Regions from separate parts of the Homo sapiens genome. Here region 2 is linked to region 1. The links come from fine-mapping of genetic effects on gene expression. A gene starts in region 1. The other region holds a variant in brackets. All regions are shown on one strand. Distances are between the middles of the regions.

What was found. PIP is the estimated chance that this variant, and not a neighbour inherited with it, causes the effect.
Region 2: its variant is fine-mapped to the expression of ARMC8 in blood mononuclear cells (TOPMed, PIP 0.93).

What each region holds. Positions count from the first base shown.
Region 1 is chr3:138,181,617-138,191,780 of GRCh38, reverse strand. It overlaps ARMC8 (armadillo repeat containing 8), which reads right to left and starts at 4,480. Exons shown (of 22, transcript NM_001363941.2): 1 at 4,182-4,480. The coding sequence starts at 4,226.
Region 2 is chr3:138,291,630-138,301,793 of GRCh38, reverse strand. It overlaps ARMC8 (armadillo repeat containing 8), which reads right to left. Exons shown (of 22, transcript NM_001363941.2): 22 at 3,421-5,935. The coding sequence ends at 5,902. It overlaps NME9 (NME/NM23 family member 9), which reads left to right. Exons shown (of 11, transcript NM_001349018.2): 11 at 90-795. The coding sequence ends at 154. Among named protein-coding and RNA genes, the nearest start is that of NME9, 33 kb to the left of the region's middle. The variant A/G (reference allele first, on the strand shown) is at 5,447.

The sequences.
Region 1 (10,164 bases):
AAACAACCTCAAAAAGTCACATACTGTATGATTCCATTCATATGACATTATAGAAAATGACAACATTATAGAGATGGAGAACAGATTATGGTTGCCAGGGGTTAGGGATACCTGTTGCGGGGAGAGGCTGGGTAGGTGGGACTATAAAGAGGGAATATGAGGGAGATCTTTGCGGTGACGGAATAGTTCTGTATCTTGACAGTGGTGGTAATGGTAACACAAATAAACATGTGATAAAATGATACAGAAACAGATACATACTTATACCAAGATCAATTTCCTTGTTTTGATACTATAATGTAACTATATAAGATGTAACCTATGAGGGAAACTGGGTGAAGTGTACACAGGGACCTGTCTGTACTATCTTTGCAACTTCCTGTGAATCTATAATTATTTCAAAATAAATGTTTTTAAAAATGCAATCAACATAATTCAAAAGTATAGAAAACATTGCAGAAATTTATGAATTTGTTGAAAAGGGTGATGTTGTAATGTTAAATGCAAACCAAAGAGGGATGGGGTGGTCATAGTGCAGTCTAGAAACAGGGCTGGAGAGTTTGTCCAACCCTCCAAAATAGATAGTTCAATCAAACATTTACTGAGTACCTAGGATTTGCAAGACAAAGTGTTACTTCTGAATTAATTTACTCTCTAATACGACAAGATAGAGTATTATTAAAGACCTCTGCAAAAGCAGTTCCCTTTGCCTTGTATGCTCTTCTTCTGTCACTTTTTCTAGTTAGTTCTTACTTATCCTTGAACTTTCAGCTCAGCATCACTTCTTCAGGGAAACCTTCCCTAGTTCTTCCTATTGCCCTCCATATTAGATCAGTTTCCTCTATGACATGTTTTGAACAGCACCCTATATACTTCATTCATAATACTAATCACCATTCACAAACTGTGTGATTATTTGATATCTATTTTTCCCACTAGGCTAACATTTCCAAAAGGACAGAGGTCTGTGTAGCTTACGGCTGTATTCCCAAACTCAACACCATGCTTGCCTAGCAAATGGCAGAAGCTCAAAGTAGATGTACAGAATATATATATACAAAGTTAAAATTCATATGTACAAATGAGTAAGAAGAATAAGATTTACTGGAGTTTGGAAGAATTCTGTATCACTCTAACCTGAGAAAGCCGGTTTATACAGGATAGCAGGTTCATGTAGAAGATAAAGAATCTCGGCCGGGTGCAGTGGCTCACACCTGTAATCCCAGCACTTTGGGAGGCCAAGGTGGGTGGATCACTTGAGGTCAGGAGTTTGAGACCAGCCTGGCCAACATGGTGAGACTCTGTCTCTACTAAAAATACAAAAAAATTAGCCAGGCATGGTAGTGGATGCCTGTAATCCCAGCTACTCAGGAGACTGAGGCAGGAGAATCGCTTGAACCCCGGAGGCGGTGGTTGCAGTGAGTCGAGATTGCGCCACTGCACTCCAGTCTGGGCAACAAGAGCAAAACTCCATCTCAAAAAAAAAAAAAAAAAAAAAAGATAAGAAAATAAAGAATCTCAACTCTGAAGCTGAATATAAACTTGGGCCTTTGGGCAAAACAAATTCAATCAAGAAAAGAAACCGAGGAGCGGCTGTAGGAAGAGTTCTTTAGGAAAATTTAAGTAGACATGGACTTGCACTGAGAGTGTAAGACATTAAAGACAGTAAAAATAATTAAAAGGACGCTGTGGTAGTGCAGGCACAAAACAACAAAGTCCTGAATGAGGGTGGTCATGGGAAGAGAAAGATATAAGAAACACTAAGAATAAAGAAGCAACAGAGCTTAACAACTGGTAGATACAGGGGGATGAAAGGAGGAAGAATCAGAGATTATTCAGGAGGTTTAACAGTTACTTATCAGTGAAAGATAACACCATTAACAGAAATTGGGAACTCATAACTAATTCCCCTTAGGAGAAGGAATGTGCTTTATTGGAAGCGATGGGTGTCATCCACACAATTTAAGATGTAAGACTAGATGTAGAAGAAAGTCAAGGTTGGCAATGCAGATGTGTGAACTGATCAGTTAAGGGTACAGGAAAATCAATGAGATTTCCCAAGGAGAAGGTATAAAGAGACTCAAATGGAAATCCTTTAAAACAACTTGAATGCCTCCTTGCTGAAATTATGTTTATCAAATTATAGCGTCACCCAGACTATGAGCTCCTGAAACGCATTTCTGATCTCATCCTTGCATTCTCTAACGTATACAATACAGAGCTTGTACGTAACTGGTACATTGTAGCTTATTAAAGGAATCAACCATTCAAGATAATTTCTGATGAATGTTTCCTGTTCTAGTTTGCATTTCAAAACATGGTGCTCTGGGTAGTACTTTGAAAGGTACAGGTTTCACTTTAAATTAGTAAAATCAGTGAATTGAAACATTTTAAATCATTTATCCAAAAGCTCCTACTTCCCCAAGGCTCTAGGAGTGAAGATCTGATAGACCAGACTTTGGGACTACGGAAATCCTTTTTTTTTAATTAAAGAAAAAAAAAAGCCCCTAATGAGACTAGGGCTAAAGGCAAATCCTAAATAGAAGTATTAATAGAAAATACTCTTCAAGAAGTTTTTGAATAAAATAAGCAGAAAATATTATTTACCAAGGAAGTGAAACAAATGAAAACTTTCAATCATATGCATTATACAAGTTGACAACATCCAAAAAGTAAACTTCAGGTGAACTGAAGGATAAATGAAATCTAAATGAATAATTAAAGGAGAACTGAGAACAGCCAAGACACATACTATTTTTTTTTAACATAATGAGGTAAAAGTCATTGGCCTGCACTCCCACAGAATATTCCTGGGTATTACAGTCAGTGATGGAGTAACAGGCTAATCTGATCTAATACTTAGGTAAACAGTATTTCCTTAGTTGCAGTTTAAAAATAAGAAAAAATGACTGCTAAAATGGATCAGGGGAAAAATCTGTTGACAGCCTCACAAAATTATTATTGTATTGACAACTTAAGCCTTTTCAAGGTTGAGGTCTGCCACACTGCTCTAACCCTGAATCATAAGCAAATGTCCTAGGTGTTTTCAGATAGGTGAGTTTGTTTGTGGGACAAGTCAGAGAAGAGAAAAGAAACCGGTTGTAGTTACAAGACTCTAGGAACCCGACAAGTCATTTATAATCCAACTACCCTCTCAGTATCAGACTGGCTTCCACAAGTCTAAAAGATGGTCAATCAGTATTTGCCTGCTTGTTTCCAACAATAGCAAATGAACCATTGGTAAACTGACCATTCTCAGAGTCGGACAGCTCGAATTTGTTGCAAAATCCTTCGAAGTTATCTCCCAGTAACTTTCATTCCTGGTCCTGGTTCAAGAGCAACATAGTGAAAGGTGAAAGTCGTCTTTTTCTTTAAAAAAACTTTTTTTAAAAAAAAAAAAAACAGGTTTTACTTCCTGGCATGTCAATACGTTCCCTTCTTTCAACAATGGGGAAATAAATCTCACCCCCTTTTCCCCCCTTCAATGTTTGACTCCCCTTAAAGAAAAACGGAATACCAGGCACAGGGAACATAGAGTTCCTCTGACTCAGAGCCGCGACCTCTGAGCAGAGCGGAGGAAAGGGGCTTAAAAAACCACACACACTAGGAAGAGTTGCAGCTGATACGAATCACCATTGCCAAAAAGCAAACTGCTTCAGCCGGTGCCCAGGTGCTGGGACGCGATAGAAGCCGCACAGACTTGGCCTGGCAGCTCTGAGGAAATGGGGGCCAAGGAGCCTGCACCTCTTCTTGCCAAAGCCCGGGAGAGCTGAGTGGGCGCTCGTTCTCAGGCCGGCTGCAAGCCCGGCGCTTCACAAGGCAGAGCGTTCGGCCCCCGGGAAGCGGCATCGCTAAAAGGAAGGCTCAGTGAAACGCTTGGCAAAGTCCAAGCCGCGCCGCCCAGCCAGTTGTCTATAAGCCCAGCCACCCCGCCTGCCAGACGCCATCCTGGGAACCCGCACCGGCGGGAGCTCCCGGAGTTGGAAACGTCTTTGGCTCGGCCGCGGTCCCCTCTGCCCGTCTATCCCGCCTCTCCACCCTCGCTCACTCCCTGGCCCGAGACTGAGCCGGGGTCCACCCCAGGGGGTGGTGCCCAGGAGGCACACCACGCTTGGGGGAATGGTGGAGACCGGGATGAGGCTTCCTGGAGGGCGGGCGGGCGGCCGCGGCGGGTCACTCACCGAAAGGACGCTCATGCGGATTGGGGTCTCCAACAAGCACGCCATCTTGAGCCTTCCCACCCGGCTGCTGCAGGCGCCGGCGCGGGGGCCGGCACTTTCGACAGCCAACTATTGGCCAACGCTAGGCACCGCTCCCTAAAGGCAGCCAGATAGACGAGAACTGGCCACGCTCTGGACACCGCTCAAGTACCGGAAAGGCCCGCAGAAAGAAGGGCAAAAGGGAATGGCGTCAGGGGCTGTCCTACGAATCGTTCTCTCAGAAACAGCAGCTACTCTGAGCCTGGGTTAGAGGTGGAAGCGGGCAGCGGTTTCCGCATGCGCAAAGAAGATCTGCCGGCCCCACCTGCCGCTCGCGGTGGGCGGGGCCCCAGAGGCGGAGTCTCGCCCTGACGCTACGAGTTTTACGGACTGATAAATTGCAGTTTATGGATTCCAGTATTCATATTTGGAAAAAGTAGTACGTGGAGCCACATACATAGTTTGAAGTTCACTTTCATATTCATTCTCTCTCTCTGCACCAAACTCCCGGCGTCGTTATCTCCATTTTATAGGTGGGGAAATTGCGATCCCAGAACCTTTGCCAACCGTAAGAGTGATTGTTTCACGATCCGATACAGATACGTGACTTGCCTTAGCGTTGTGTGCCGGCCCCGTTTATTCTGGTGTAGTGTTAAGAATAGCCAGAATGCTTGGGTTTCTTCCTAGCTACTTGATTTATCAGCTGCTTTACCCTGGGCAAGTTATCTAACCTTCTGTTTGAGTTTCCTCATCTATAAAATAAAGGTTAATGAGGATAGAGGAGTCAACAAACGTGAAGCTCTCAGAAAAAACCTAGAACATAGAAAGCGTTATACAATATGTGTTAACATTTCTCCAGCTTCTGAGTTAAGTGGGGAAAATGGGGGCAAATATCTAAATATTTCGCACTAAAACACTCTCATAACCGAAGCTAAATAAAAGTATGCTTTCAATTATACTTGATTAATTCAGCTGTCCTACTACTTTGTGTGTGTGTGTGTGTGTGTGTGCAACACTGCCCTTGACTTGGTTGGATAAGTTTCACCTTCGTACTGCTTGCAACCAGTAAGGTTTTCACAGTATGGTTGCAATTGGCCTGTTAACATTACTTGTATTCCTTCCATTTCTATAGCCACACCCTAATTCAGGCTCTTGTAACCTCTCCCCTGGACTACAGCAATAGCCTTCCAACTGGTCTTGTAGCTGGTAGCCTCTCCCGCACTCTGCTCCTCACTGTTTTCCTGTCTTCCTCCTGTACTTGGTTTCCAAATTTAGTGTAGCATTTACCACCCCTGCTTATGGGTCTGTGTTCCTTAACAAACTGTTGAATTCCTGGAAGGCAGGAATTTTATTTTAGGTAGTCCTTCTGCTATAATACTATTTCTGAAACTTGGGTAATCTGTACACCACCTACACAATCTTTGCCAATCTGCACCTAGGTATTATTATTCATTCAATATTTTTATTTAAAGCCAATTTCAACTCATTAAAAATTTTTGGCTTTATCCTAAACCATAATACTCTGTGAAATCAAGTTTGTTGTGCTCCTTATTTTTATTCTAGTACACATTAACTACAAAAAGTTTAAATGTCCATCCATGGACCACCTAAAATCACATCATGTACTGCATACTGCAATGGGGCAGAACATAACCCTAATACATAGTATATAGAGTCATTATAACTGTATTTGATCCACACTCCATCCATTAGCTCAAGCAATACATCCTCCAGGAATTGTCTCCCCCAGGCATGGGTTAGATACCCTTTCCCCCATGCCTTCATACTTCACTTTAATTGTAGGGTGGTTTTGTTGTTGTTAATTGTTTCCGTGTTTGTCTCACTATACACTTCAAGACAGGCACTGGGAGTTTTATCTTCTAGGTTGTCTATCTCAGTGCCTAGCACAGTCACTTAGTAAATGTTTGTTGTACGAATTTTTGGCTTAGTTTGAGCCTGGGACGAAGATTTGGGTGCATTTTGTTTATTTAGTAAGTGCTTTCAGGGAACAAAATTGATAGGTCAGGGAGAGTGAAAAAAGAAAGAATAAATATTCAAGATAATTGTCCATTATTGATGCCACTGTTTATTCCTCAATCACCTCTGAAAACATACAGAATACCTCTCTGGATTGTCCATCTTGAAGCTACAGCATTCATCCACCAATACCATATGTATTGGTTGAGGATTTCCCTAGGGCTATTAACTCCCTGCCCTCCTGGATTATATTTGTGCCCAGAACAGAACGGGCTTCTTTAACCTGATACAAAAAAGCAGAGTCTGCAGGTTTCATCTTAGGGTGGGATATAGGCAGCATAAATCTGAGCTTGCACAGAACTGTCACTGCTGCTGTGGCTGAAATCCGAGCGGGGAGGAGCTAGAAATGTGACTCAAGACATCTCACACCTCTGTCTGTTACCCAGGCTTTCCTGTTTTATATCCAGAAGACTGACATAGACATTTTACAGGAAGAAAGCATTGAATAGCCAACTCCTAAGCTTGGAGATCAGGAATCTTGCTCCCAGTTCAAATTTTGCTGATAAATAACTTTAGGTACACTCTTAAGTAATGAGTAGAAATTGGAAGATAAAAGGAATTTTTGATTCAGCCTGCATGTGACGATAACAAAACAGTTAAGCATGGGCGCGGTGGCTCACACCTGTAATCACAACACTTTGGGAGGCTGAGGCTGATGGATCACCTGAGTTCAGGAGTTCAAGACCAGCCTGCCCAATATGGCGAAACCCCATCTCTACTAAAAATACAAAAATTAGCCTTGCATAGTGGCATGCACTTGTAGTTCCAGCTACTCGGGAGGCCGAGACAGGAGAATTGCTTGAACCCGGGAAGTGGAGGTTGCAGAAAAAAACAAAAACAGTTAAATTTGGCACTGTGGTGAGGAGAGGAAAATATCCATGCTGACTACTCTGCAAACAGAAATGAAACTTCTCCCTGTCGTTCCATGGCTCTTAGAGCAGTATTAATTTCTGTAAAAAAAAAAAAAAAGACAACAAAGTGTGAGTTTAATGAAGAAAAAAAATGAAATGCAAAACAAGAAGTAGCCAGAAAAAAATCTGAAAAATCTTTATAAATATCTTTGTGGAACTGCCTAAGATGAGAAACAAAGCCAGAGAGAAATGTATCTATACAAAAATAGGAAAGTTTAAAGTGTGGGGAGATAGGTATAATCCAAAACCTGAATGGTCCCAAAAGAAATTTAGAAGAATCTTTAAAAAGACTTGAAAACGGGCTGGGCACGGTGGCTCACACCTGTAATCCCAGCACTTTGGGAGGCCGAGGTGGGTGGATCACCTGAGGCCGGGAGTTCGAGACCAGCCTGACCAACATGGAGAAATCCCGTCTCTACTAAAAATACAAAAAAATTAGCTGGGCATGGTGGCGGATGCCTGTAATCCCAGCTACTCGGGAGGCTGAGGCAGGAGAATCGCCTGAACCCGGGAGGCGGAGGTTGTGGTGAGCCAAGATCGCGCCATTGCACTCCAGCCTGGGCAACAAGTGCGAAACTCGGTCTCAAAAAAAAAAAAAAAAAAAAAAAGGAAAACAGATGAAATACTTTAAATAAAAAAGAAAATGGACTAACAACAGTATAGAGGAGATACAATGCAGTTCAACAGACACTAACTACAGGTTTTCTTGTGAATGCACTGAACTAGAGTTTTGAAGTGGAACAAAGACATGGTTCTTTCCCTCAGCAGACAGGAATAAAAGTGAGACTGTGAGGCTGGGCGCAGTGGCTCACGCCGGTAATCCCAGCACTTTGGGAGGCCGAGGTGGGTGGATTACCTGAGGTCAGGCATTTGAGACAAGCCTGACCAATATGGTGAAACCCCGTCGATACTAAAAATAGAAAAATTAACTAGGCGTGGTGGCACCTGCCTGCAATCCCAGCTACTCGGGAGGCTGAAACAGGAGAACTGCTTGAACCTGGGAGTGGAAGTTGCAGTAAGCTGAGATCGCACCACTGCACTCCAGCCTGGGTGACAGAGCAAGACACTGTCTCAAACAAAAAACAAAAAAAAAACAATGAGACTGTGAGAGGTTCAATAATTTGCTTAAGGTTGCTTGGGGAGTAAGAGGCTGAATCAATTTTGGTACAGGTTTCTCTGGTTCCAAAGTTCTTTCCAGAGCTCCTACAGTCCTCTGGGACTTAATAGGACTTTCCCAGATGAGACTACCGAATGTTCATCTAAGCAACCAACCTATAAAGGAAAGTCCACAAGGGCTTTTGCGGTGGGAAATAATGCATCAATAATTCATCAGGTCCACAGAGGGTGTGAAATGTATATGCCTGGCCAGGCGCAGTGGCTCATGTCTGTAGTCCCAGCACTTTGGGAGGCGGAGATGGGCTGACTTGAGCTGAGCTCAGGAGTTCAAGACCAGCCTGGGCAACATGGCAAAATCCCTTTGCTACCAAAAAAAAAAAACCAAAGCAAGAATTAGCCAGGCATGGTGCCTTGAGCTTGTGGTCCCAGCTGCTTGGGAGGCCAAGGTGGGAGGATGGCTTGAGCCCAGAAGGCAGGGGTTGCAGTGAGCTGAAATGGTGGCACTGCACTCCAGCCTGGGTGACAGAGTGAAACCATGTCTCAGAATAAAAACTAAAAAGAAAATAAAAGAAATATGTGTATGGCTAAAATAGAAGTAGTGAGATGTTTACAAAGTTTTAAAATTAGAAACCACAGTAAAAAAGAAAATACTCATTTAAAAATTGAATTACTGCTATGGTAGAATTCCAACTTACAAATGTAGAAGAAATGATAGAATTAGAAAATCAGGCTGGGTGCAGTAGCTCACACCTGTAATCTCAGCACTTTGGGAGACCAAGGCGGGTGCACTTGAGACCAGGAGTTTGAGACCAGCCTGGTCAACATGGCAAAAACCTGCCTCTACTAAAAATACAAAAATTAGCTGGGCATGGTGGCGCACAGCTGTAATCCCAGCTATGTGGGGGCTGAGGCACCAGAATCACCTGAACCCAGGAGGCAGAGTTTGCAGTGAGCTGAGATCGTGCCATTGCACTTCAGCCTGGGTGACAGAGCAAGACTCTCTCTCAAAAAAAAAAAAAAAAAAAAAAGAAAAGAAAATCAACACTTGACAACTGTGTGAGTTATAATTGTTTCAAGCAAGAATCATCAATGGATGCCACAACTAAGTGGTGAAAATATTAAGAGAAACAGGATATTTACACAGTCTTAAAGTATCACTCTACAAGATACTAAGGATAGTAGAGTACCTGCCATTAGATACCTACTAATGGTAGGTAACATTTTATTTAAGTCATTGTAATTGGTATCACCAGTAATGCAATAAACACCATGATATCATGCACTGAGAAGAACACAAAATTACTTCTGTGGTATTCTTGCCAAAACTACATGAATATAATCATGAGGAAACATCAGATAAACCCTAGTTAAGAAATATTCTACAAAATAACATACCTATACCCTTCAAAAATATCATGAAAGAAAAACTGAGGAATTGTTTCAGATTAAAGGACACCAAAATGATATGACAGCTAAATGCAACCTGTGATCTGTAATTGGATCTCAGAAAAGGGAAAACTTTTTTTTCTTTTGCTATAAAGGACATCAATGGGAAAATTGGAAAAATTTGAATAAAGTCTGTAGATAAGGTATCATTGCTAATGTATTGATTTTGATAATTGTACTGCTGTCATGGAAAGAATGCCCTTGTTTTTAGGAAATACACAATGAAAAATGTAAGTGTAAAAAATTGAGTCACTGTGGATTGAGCAACTGTTTTTCTTTAATAATGAAAAAGAAACTCTTTTAATTTATTTTAATAATGAAAAGAATTTCACAAAAGAGAACCTAGCTAAGGATCCTGGAAATTTATTCATTTGACAAAACATAGATAGATAGATGATAGATAGATAGATAGATAGATAGAGATATACTAGGTACCTACTATGTGCCAGGCACAA
Region 2 (10,164 bases), 110 kb before region 1:
CTTCCTATTTCTTTGTGGATGGTGGGTGGGACAGAAGGTCTGGGACAGGGCTGTTTCAGGAGTCCTACCAAACATCTGTCATCCCACAGGCGGTGAGGCTGAAGCAACAGCGGGGCCCACTGAGGCGCTTTGCTTTCCTGAGGATGTGGATTGAGATGGCTGTGCTGCTCTTCCAGAGCACGTGACCAGGGGTCTACTGCACAAAACAGACCTCCGGAATCGGAACTTACTCTTTTGAGTACCAATACTTTTTGGTTTAGCTGTCTTTTGTAGACAATGAAAATAATATGGCTGGGCGCAGTGACTCACACCTGTAATCCCAGCACTTTGGGAGGCCGAGGCAGGTGGATCACCTGAGATTAGGAGTTTGACACCAGCCTAGCCAACATGGTGAAACCCTGTCTCTACTAAAAATACAAAAAATTAGCCGGGCGTGGTGGTGTGCACCTGTCATCCAGCTACTCGGGTGGCTTAGGCATGAGAATCGCTTGAACCCGGGAGGTGAAGGTTGCAGTAAGCCGAGATCATGCCACTGCACTCCAGCCTGGGTGACAGAGTGAGACTCCATCTTAATAATAATAATAAAAAAAAAAGTAAAGAAAGAGAATAGTATATACTTTTCTGCCTTATTAAACAGTATGTAGAACGCAGTTTTTTTTCTCTGTCTTTGGGATTTTACAAAATAATTGAACATCAGTTATTACATCCTGTTGTGAGATATAAGTGTCATCTCAGAGGATACTGGGTTATATGAGATGGTGTTTCCCCAACAATAAATCTACCTTATGAATTAAACAATTTTAGAACTTAATTTGGTAACCATGAGCTTGAAAACAGTGCAGCAAGATTGACTATGACACTTCCAGGCACACTGATGCCGAGGCAGATATAAATAGGCTCCAAATGCTTCCTCACACTGCCTGCCCAAGTCACACCAACAGTCATTTAATGCTGCCAGATTTCCCCATCTGCAGTTCTCCATTACCAGGGCATGTTCATAAAGCAATGCTCAGACATTAAATTTGGAACCAGGGTTCATCTAATTTTCTTGACGCATCCCTCCCCCATTTCTCTGGCTTCTGATTCTGGCTGACACTTAAATTTAAAAGCTGAGAGCTCCTAGTGGGGCCAGGTTGCCTTCAGCTCCCACTGAATTGCCTGGCTTAGCCATCCCTCTGCAGTTCTTCCCTGGAGGGACACAGGATTTCAGTAAAAAGTAGCTATTATGACCACTTGGGAATTATTAGCACACAATGCCACCCCCTCTAACGACTTTATTTGTAAATTTGCCAAGTGCCGGCATACTTTTTCCTATCTGAGGAGAAGGCCATTTTCTACACCACGAAGCAAATGCCAGCGTCTTCCTCCTTGCTGGTTTTGTCCATGACTTGAGGTTCTTTAAATGGGCAGTTAGCTCCCAGAGGACATTTTCGTGGGTGCATCACACTTCGTCAGCCTACCACAACACACTCTGTGCTCAGGGGACACACGGATAAGTCAGTCCCCACAGTTGGGAACCAAGGCCAGTGACCTTCAGTAGGCCCTACTGTTTAAGGCCACTGTCCTTCCCAGGACCTCGTGCCACCCCTGGATGGAAACACACATGTCCACAGTGCTCATCGGAACCTGTACAGGATCTCAATGTGCCCAACAGAGCCCTCACTGACAGGACCTGTCAGGAAGCTGGATGCACTATTCCAGATCCCCAGACTCACAGCCCACCATGGGGCTGTGCTCTTCCCTTTGGGAGTGGGCTCAAGAGTGGGGCCCATATGGTCTGTGCCCACTTCACGAGTGGCAAACGACTTGGAGAAGCCCTATGCCTGGGCTTCCACACCACAGGTGTGTGTGGCTCTGAATGAGCTACTTGGAGGGGGTGCACCCAGCTGACAGCCATCTGATCTCCCCAGAATCTGGGAAGCCAAGGATCTTCCAACATTGGTGAGATGAGAGATGGAGCCACCAGGACCTCCCAAAGCAGGGGAGAGAGGGGAAAATGAGGTTGGGGAACTGAGCCTGTCGGCGGGGAGTGTTCTTGTGTCAGTGATGGATGAAGTAGCTGGGCAGGGCAGTGGTAAAGCAAAGTGGGGCACTAGGTGATGGGGCAGGAGTGGGAGGAATGGTGACATGCCCCTTCCTCCCATTACTGGTGACTCAGGGATGCTGTGGGTTCAGCATTGCAGGGCATCTCTAAGAGTCCACAAGTTTCATGGCATAAGGAACAGGGGAATGGGGTGTAAGGGGGTTCCCGAGAGTGGCTCAAATATCAGCCCACTCCCAGAGGATGGAACTCACTGGCGGAGACCCTAGGCCTGGTTTCACACAACAGAAGCAAATATGGAAGTAAAGGATGGGTGCTGTTTTTGGCTTTAAGATCCCTCGGCTCCTGGGTGTGAGTGCCTGACGAGGAGGGCAGGCTGGGCTCCATGAAGTCAAGGAGGGTGGTTTTAAGGACTGGCTCTGGACCTCCACTCAGCCTGAGGGCAGATTGCTTGCCAAAGCCAGGAGCCAGGGGCTGCAGAGATAGAGAAAAGGTGGCTTAGTAGTCCACTCAGTGGCCCTTGGGGGGTTCCCTCAGCCTTCCCTAAAGCCAGATCCTGGACCTTCTCTCATGCTGGAAATAAACATGTGCCTCTCTGCCCAGTAAACAGGCAAGGGGCAGGATGGGGACAGCACCAGTTCCTACCCCAGGTGGCAAGAAATTGGAACCGTTCTGTCAGCCCTCCATCAAGATCTGGGGTGGGAGTCCCCCTTCCCTCCTTAGACCTCACTTCCAAGTTTTCCTGTGGTAGTTATGGGAAACAGGGGCCTGCTTGGCCCTGCTCCTACTCTCTTCGCCTTACCTTGGGTCCTCTCAGAGGTTCCCACCATGATTATTCCCTCTCTTGCTAGCCACCTCATCATCCTCCCGCCACTCTGGCGCAGGTGTCCTTGGCTTTGTTTCCAGTGAGGCCTTGAGATAGGAGATGTGCCTACAATTCAGAGATGGGAAAAGGTGGCAGTGCGTAGTAGACGAAGAGCACCTGTGTGTCCTTGCAGAGGGATAGCAAGCTCTTGCATACTGTGGTAGTGGAGATGCAAGCTGGTGGTAGTGGAGATGGGGCATACCTAAGGAGAAGAGGATGGAGGGGGTGGACATGATATTGGGGATGGGATATCTTGTGGCTGGGAGTGGCCACCTGTGAAGGGTCTGCTGGCCTTCAGAAGGAGGCCAAAAAGAGAGGGGTCCCCAGACTGCTGCAGATGCCTCTGGGAACCACACTTACCTTAAGGCACTGGGTCCCACTCTGAAATGCAAAGCCACTTCCCAGCCCTTCATTTACCAAGAATCACAGGTTCCAAAAGCGTGTACACATTATCTTCTGATGTTTCCTAATGTTCTAGACATTTGGAAAACAGACTCCTTTTTAGAAGTTGCCATGATTTTTCTTGGCTTTTATTAGCATGTGTTAAAATCATATTATCCAAACACTACCAGAAGAACATGTATTGTTCTGAATAAAGTGCTTAAAGAAAAAAAAATGCAACTTATTAAATTGGACATTCTTTTCTAGTTCATAAATTTTGGATTACAATCAGGGCACAAAAGGAGAAACAGAATGCAGTATTAGAGCGAGAAGCTTAGTTAAGAACTTGGGTGTAGACACAATACCATGTCCACTCTTCCCACTTCCTTGCTGACTGAACACTGCACCTGCATAAAGCAGCAAACAGCTTTGTTTCAATAAATACATTTCCCTTCATTCAAATCAGAAAAGTTAATTATAGTAAAGCATTTTTAATTTGACCATCTGTTTATACCCACAGGCAAAATTTATCCACAGAGTTTAAGTGTGAAAGTGTTATTTCATTGGGCCTTCAGCTTTCTAATGCTATTTGGGTTCAAGATTGTCTCAGCAATTCATTATTGGTTTCTTTATATTTACCTAGTACTATTTAATACCAACACTATAGTGTTTTGTGTTAAAAATGCCAACCAAGGATATTTTCACAGTTCTAGAAACGAGTGGGCCTGAGGCTTTCTTCCCAATAAACTAAGTTTTCTTTTAACTGGGTTTCTCACATTAGCACTCTGATATCTGCACAAAACCAAGTCCTGTTGTGACAGATTTTAAAATCGGTGATGTTCTGAAAAAATAGTAACTTGGAAGTCTCTGTGTTTGAATCTTGGGTGGTCATGTTGAGAGCAGGAAAAATTGCATTAAATACATTTTTAAAACATTCATTTGCAACCAAACATTTAAATCTTCCAAGGAACGTGCAGGGTGGTGATAGGGCAGCTGCAGTGTGAGCAACCCCATCAGGAGTGGCTGGTGGGTGGGCTTGGAGCTCCATCAGTGGCACACACTCACCGCAAGCTTCTGGACCGCAGACCTTGCATCCTGGTTGCGAAGCCTTTGACCTTCTTTTAGCAAAGAGAAAAGGTAGGCTGCTTCTACCTTCAAACAGTCAAGAGCAACTTCTGTTGAGTTCACCTTGCTGCTGACCCAGAAGTTGGAGCAGGGGCCAAGCTAAGGGGTGCAGAAAGGCTAACAGTACTTGCTGTAAAAAGAAGTCATCTTCAGTCATCCTGGGGAGATTCCCTTGCCCCTCTCTCAACTTGAGTGCTTTTAGCTTCATGCAGGAAAGATTTTAGTTGCATCTTTTATTAAATTTCAATCTCGTTTTACAAAAGCATACCAACTAGCAGTCCTGAGCAACTAGTATGAAATTTGCTGAATACAGCTAACAGAAAGCTTTCTAAACTATCCTGTTCTTTGTTTCTTTCTACAGGGGTGTCTGTAGAATATTCTTTAGTTTCACAGTGATATATGCTGTTTCAGGAAGCACAAGGTATTCTGTTTCTGGGAAGTGATGACCTACTTTTAGTTTGAGCACAAGTTTCCATGACTGGTTCTAAATCTGGCCAGATATTGCTAATACCAATGACAGGAGTTAGGGCAATTGGGAGGCTCTTGGTCCCCAGTTCCTGTCAAGGGTAAGCCCATCTGGGTCATGGCTGGGCTTTCACTATCAGTAGTTATATTTCCCTTTGATGCTTCAAAAAGCCTATGGTGAATCTGTTGCCTCACTTTACTTCTCCATTTGACTTGGAAGCCTGAGAACTTACTGAATTAGGATGAAAAAAGGCTCTGTACCTGCTAATATTGACGGCAGTAAGATGCTAGCTTACTATTTTGCACAGCACCATGTATAGTGCCTGTTAATCAGGCCAACTATAGCCAACTTTTTCTTTTTTTTTCTTTTTTTTTATATAAAGAAAATCTATGTAAGTTGAGGTTCAGAAATGCATATATTTTTTACTTACAAATATTCATCTGACCAAAATTCAACATAACCTTTATGGAACACTTAACAATTGTTTTGTTTTTAAAATAACATTTCATTCAAACTGTATATAATTCAGTAAAGTTTTTTATACAGCAAGCAATGCTTAAACCCTGGA[A/G]AATCTGTAGAAAAGAGATTTTCACACAAAATAAGAAAAGAAAAATCTGAGGTATCCCTCACACACACACATCCATTCATTCTGGCCCATGTACGTGCACATACACACGCATGCCTGTGTGTTCACACAGACATATTCATTCTCACTCACAAAGTGGCTGCAGCATAGGCAAAAATTGTAGGTCCAAAGGAAAATGATTGATTGTTCTAATAAAGAGTCCGAGTAGCTCAGAAAAAAAAACCAAAACAAAACACAAGAGTCTTCTGAGGAAATTACTACCTCAAAAAAATGTTCTCAAGATGAATTTGAGATCTAAGCCTACTAAACTGCTTTTGCAAAACAGCTCCCTGCAGTCCAAGGTGACTTGTGCAAATAGAAGGAATCAAATGAGGCTGGTTCCTGTACTTCCTTAAACAAGGAGGTGGGATGCTCGCAGGTGCCCAGGGGCACTCCCATCATGCCAGGTACTGCTGCAGTGCCATCTTTGCCCTGAAATCACAAAATTCCTGTTAGCCATCATCTCAGAATTGTAATTGGGGTAAAAAACCCTATGGTTCAATGATGATAGCTGGGGAAGTCTAAAAAAGTAAATCTCCAGAGGGAATTGGGGTGAGCCCAGGTGGGCACCTACCTTAAGGGGAAGAGATCTGCAGTGGGTAGACACCTGAAATCTACTCTGGCTATATTCTTCTTCCTGTGGATCTCTCAGAGGGCTGTTCCTGCACTTAAACCTGCTGCAGCTCAGTGACATTCCACAGTCCCTGGTATGTGCTGACATTCTATGTTTTCTTTTGTCACTGGCATATAGTTGTGATAGGTCTTACATTCTTTACTTTTTCTTACTGCCATGTAGGTTTTATGCAGTGAGGCACAACACTAGGGAGAACACTTAGGGTTCTGGGAAGCAAATAAGAAAACTGACCGAGGAAATGGTGTTGAGGTGATTAGAAGGTGCATGGAAGGGGCCAAGAGCCCATGGGATGAGGCTGTCTTATGCTTCACATGCCTCAGAACCGTGGAAGAAGGCTACAATTTCATCTTGTTCTTCTCATCACACCTGATGACACCATAACTGATCAATGTGAGATGTGTGTTGTTACGGTGATGGGGGAAGAAGGTGGCCAGGTGGAAAGGAAAAGATAGAATGTAGGCCGGGTGCTGTGGCTCACACCTGTAATTCCAGCACTTTGGGAGGCTGAGGAGGGCAGATCACCTGAGGTCAGGAATTCAAGACCAGCCTGGCCAACACGGTGAAACCCTGTTTCTACCAAAAATACAAAAATTAGCCGAGTGTGGCAGCGGGCACCTGTAATCCCAACCACTTCGGAGGCTGAGCCAGGAGAATGGCCTGAACCTGGTGGGTGGAGGTTGCAGTGAGCTGAGATGGTGCCATTGCACTCCAGCCTGTGCGACAAGAGTGAAACTCCATCTCAAAAAAAAAAAAAGAACAAAAAACAAACAAAAAAACCCAAAAAACAAACCAAAAAATAATGTGAACAGTGACTTAATCTATCCTGATCCTTGTAAAAGTGGCCTCCTTTGAGGTGGGCCCAAGGAGGCCTCCTTTACTATTCCTATCACAAACATGGTAAAGTTTCTAAAGAGGCTGTAATCGTGGGAGTTAGGAAGTCAGGTTTCAGCAATGGTCTCTTCTAAGCTATGGAAAGAAAGTCTACAATGTTCAGGTACAATAGCTGATCAAACTAATACCAAGTAGACTATGCATACAATAAGCTGGATTCAAGTGCAGTTTCTGCAGTAATGGACACAACAGTTTTTTAAGTGGTATACTAAGGTGTATTCTTGCAATTATATAAGACTCTAAAGATGATATTGTGAATAGTCCAATCCATCAGAACAGAAAGCTCTAGAAAGATTATCTCCAAGTTATGAGCAAGTAGGGTTCTACAAGGACATTTTCAGAAACAAGTTTATGAATGATGCCACAGACCATCCACCTGACTCCCCAAATACTTAAAGAGGCTGAGAAGAACAGTTCTGATGGAGGCGGGAGCTCTGGGACCCTGCAACCCTGAAGCCCTCCAAGCCTGGGTGGAGAGGGCTGGTTAGCAATAGCTTCTCATCTGTAAGCATCTGAAAGTCAAAGGATCAAAGTCTTAACGACAAAAGGAACCTGAGAGATATATTCTTCAGGTGATAGACCTTACTGTACTTAACTGAGGGTCTTGATTGAAATTCTGTATTGCTCTTTAAATCTGCCAAATTCAAACTCCTTCTGGATCTTATTCAGAGGTTGGCTAGGTTTGATTATTTTGGGTCTCAGAGACTGTACCTTTATTGTCTTTCTACTGTCATTATCTAAGGAGTCTTTTTAGAAGAATGGTTTTGGAGGCAAGATCACCCTTTCTTAGATGGACTCAGGTTGGGTAGCTCAGACCTTGATTCTATTATTTTACGGTTTACGTTTAAGAAGAGCTAAAAACTTATGTGAAAACAGCACCAGAGTGGTCTAAGCAAGCAGGCTAAACCTATCCCACTTGATGCTGGTAAGGCCTATCCTACCATCCTATGTCATCCTTGAGATGATTTTAAGTAAAATTTGTTTTTACTTCTGAATAAATATGAGATAAAACCCCCAGTGAACAACCTGGCTCTCAGGTAGAAAAGATGGGCTGACAGAGCCCACTGTTTATGCCAGCAGCTGTGGAGGTGGAGGTTCCAGTCCTCAAGGTACAAGCTCAGATCCAGCCTTCAGCATGTGGATGGACTTGACTTTGATGGTACACTCATCTGACCAGCAGCCTTGGGCTGCAGTTTTTTAGTTCTTCTTCCTCTTTTCTTTTTTTTTTTGAGACAGTCTTGCTCTGTTGCCTAGGCTGGAGTGCACTGGTGCAATCTCGGCTCACCACGATCTCTGCCTCCTGGGTTCAAGTGATCCTCCTGCCTCAGCCTCCCCAGTAGCTAGGACTACAGGCACGTACTACCATGCCCTGCTAATTTTTGGAGTTTAGTAGAGACGGGGTTTCACTATGTTGGCCAGGCTGGTCTCGAACTCCTGACCTCATAATCCGCTTACCTCGGCCTCCCAAAGTGCTGGGATTACAGGCGTGAGCCACCGCGCCCAGCCTAGTTATTCTTCTTTAGCCTACAGGATGGTAAGCTTCGGGGAAGCAGAGGCCTAGCCTGTCCTGTGTGCTTCACAATCTGGAAGAGCCATTTACTTCAGAGGAGTTAGTTAAGTTCCTCTCCCCTTCAGTGGAGCAGACAACCTGACAGCCAAGACACAGTGTGACGTGTTCTACAGATGCTACAGGAGCACAAAAGGCATCCCTGGCAAAGCCTGGAGGGGAGGGTGGAGAGTGGGTCAGGCAAGGCTTTTTGGAGGACATAGCAACCTGATATGAGTTTTGAAGGATAAACGGCCACCGTCCAGGCATCTTTTTCCTTTGTTTTCTGGACACCTTATGCGCCTGAGTCTCTGCCTGCCTCACTAGCTGTTCCTTCTGCTCCTTTGCTGCATCTTTCTCATCACTGCCTAAATGCTGGAGGGACTCTAGATCTTGGTCCTTAGTCCTCCTTTCTCTCTTTTTACTTGCTCTAAGAGACTTCATCCAGCTCCATGGCTTTAAATACCATTCAGATTTATAGCCCTGCTCTTCCAAGTCCCTTGGATATCTAATATGCATCTTAACGCTGGCATACCCAAACAAGAACTCTTGATGCTCCCTACCGCAACCCACTTCTATATTCCTCACCATCTTGGTATATGGCAACACCCTCTGTCCAGTTGCTCAGGCTAAAACCCTAGACATTTTCCTTTCCTCTCTTTAACATCCTGTACTGAATCTGTGAGTAAGTCCCGTTGGTGCTTATCTTCAGATTAAATCCTGAATCCAACCACTTCTCAATACTTCCAATACTAATCCCCCCACTCCCTTACCGACATTATTACAATGGCCTTTAACTGGTCTCTGTGCCTCCATTCTTGCCCTCCTACAGATGGTTCTCTGTAAGTCACCAGAGTGATCTTTTAAAAATTCAAATCAGGGCCCGGCGTGGTGGCTCACGCCTGTCATCCCAGCACTTTGGGAAGCCGAGGTGGGTGGATGATCTGAGGTCAGAAGTTTGAGACCAGCCTGGCCAACATGGTAAAACCCTGTCTCTACTAAAAATACAAAAAAATTAGCTGGGCGTGGTGGCAGGCGCCTGTAATCCCAGCTACCTGGGAGGCTGAGGCAGGAGAATCACTTGAACTCAGGAGGCAGAGGTTTCAGTGAGCCAAGATCACGCCATTGCACTCCAGCCTGGGCAACAAGAGTGAAACTCCATCTCGAAAGAAAAGAAAAGAAAGAAAAAAAGAAAAAGGAAAAGGAAAAAAGGAATTCAAATCAGATAATGTCTCCTCTCCTTAACAGTCTCCAATGATTTCCTATTAAACTCTGAATAAAAGCCAAAGTCCTTACCTTACCTACAAGGCTCTTCATGGTCTGGATTCTTCCACCTATTAGCATTCTCCCTCTCCATATTTTTCATTAGCCCTCTGTTCTTCTTGCTGTTTCTTGAACATACCAAGTTCACTCCTGCTTCAGGGCCTTTGAACCCACTATCACCCCTGTCTGTAATACTCTTCCTCTATGCATTTGCCCAGATGAAATCTTCCTTATTTCATTCAGGTCTCTGATCATGTCATCCTCAGAGAGATCTTTACTAGCTAACCTAAAATAAATTTTCTTGATTCTCCATTCCTTCACCTTGCT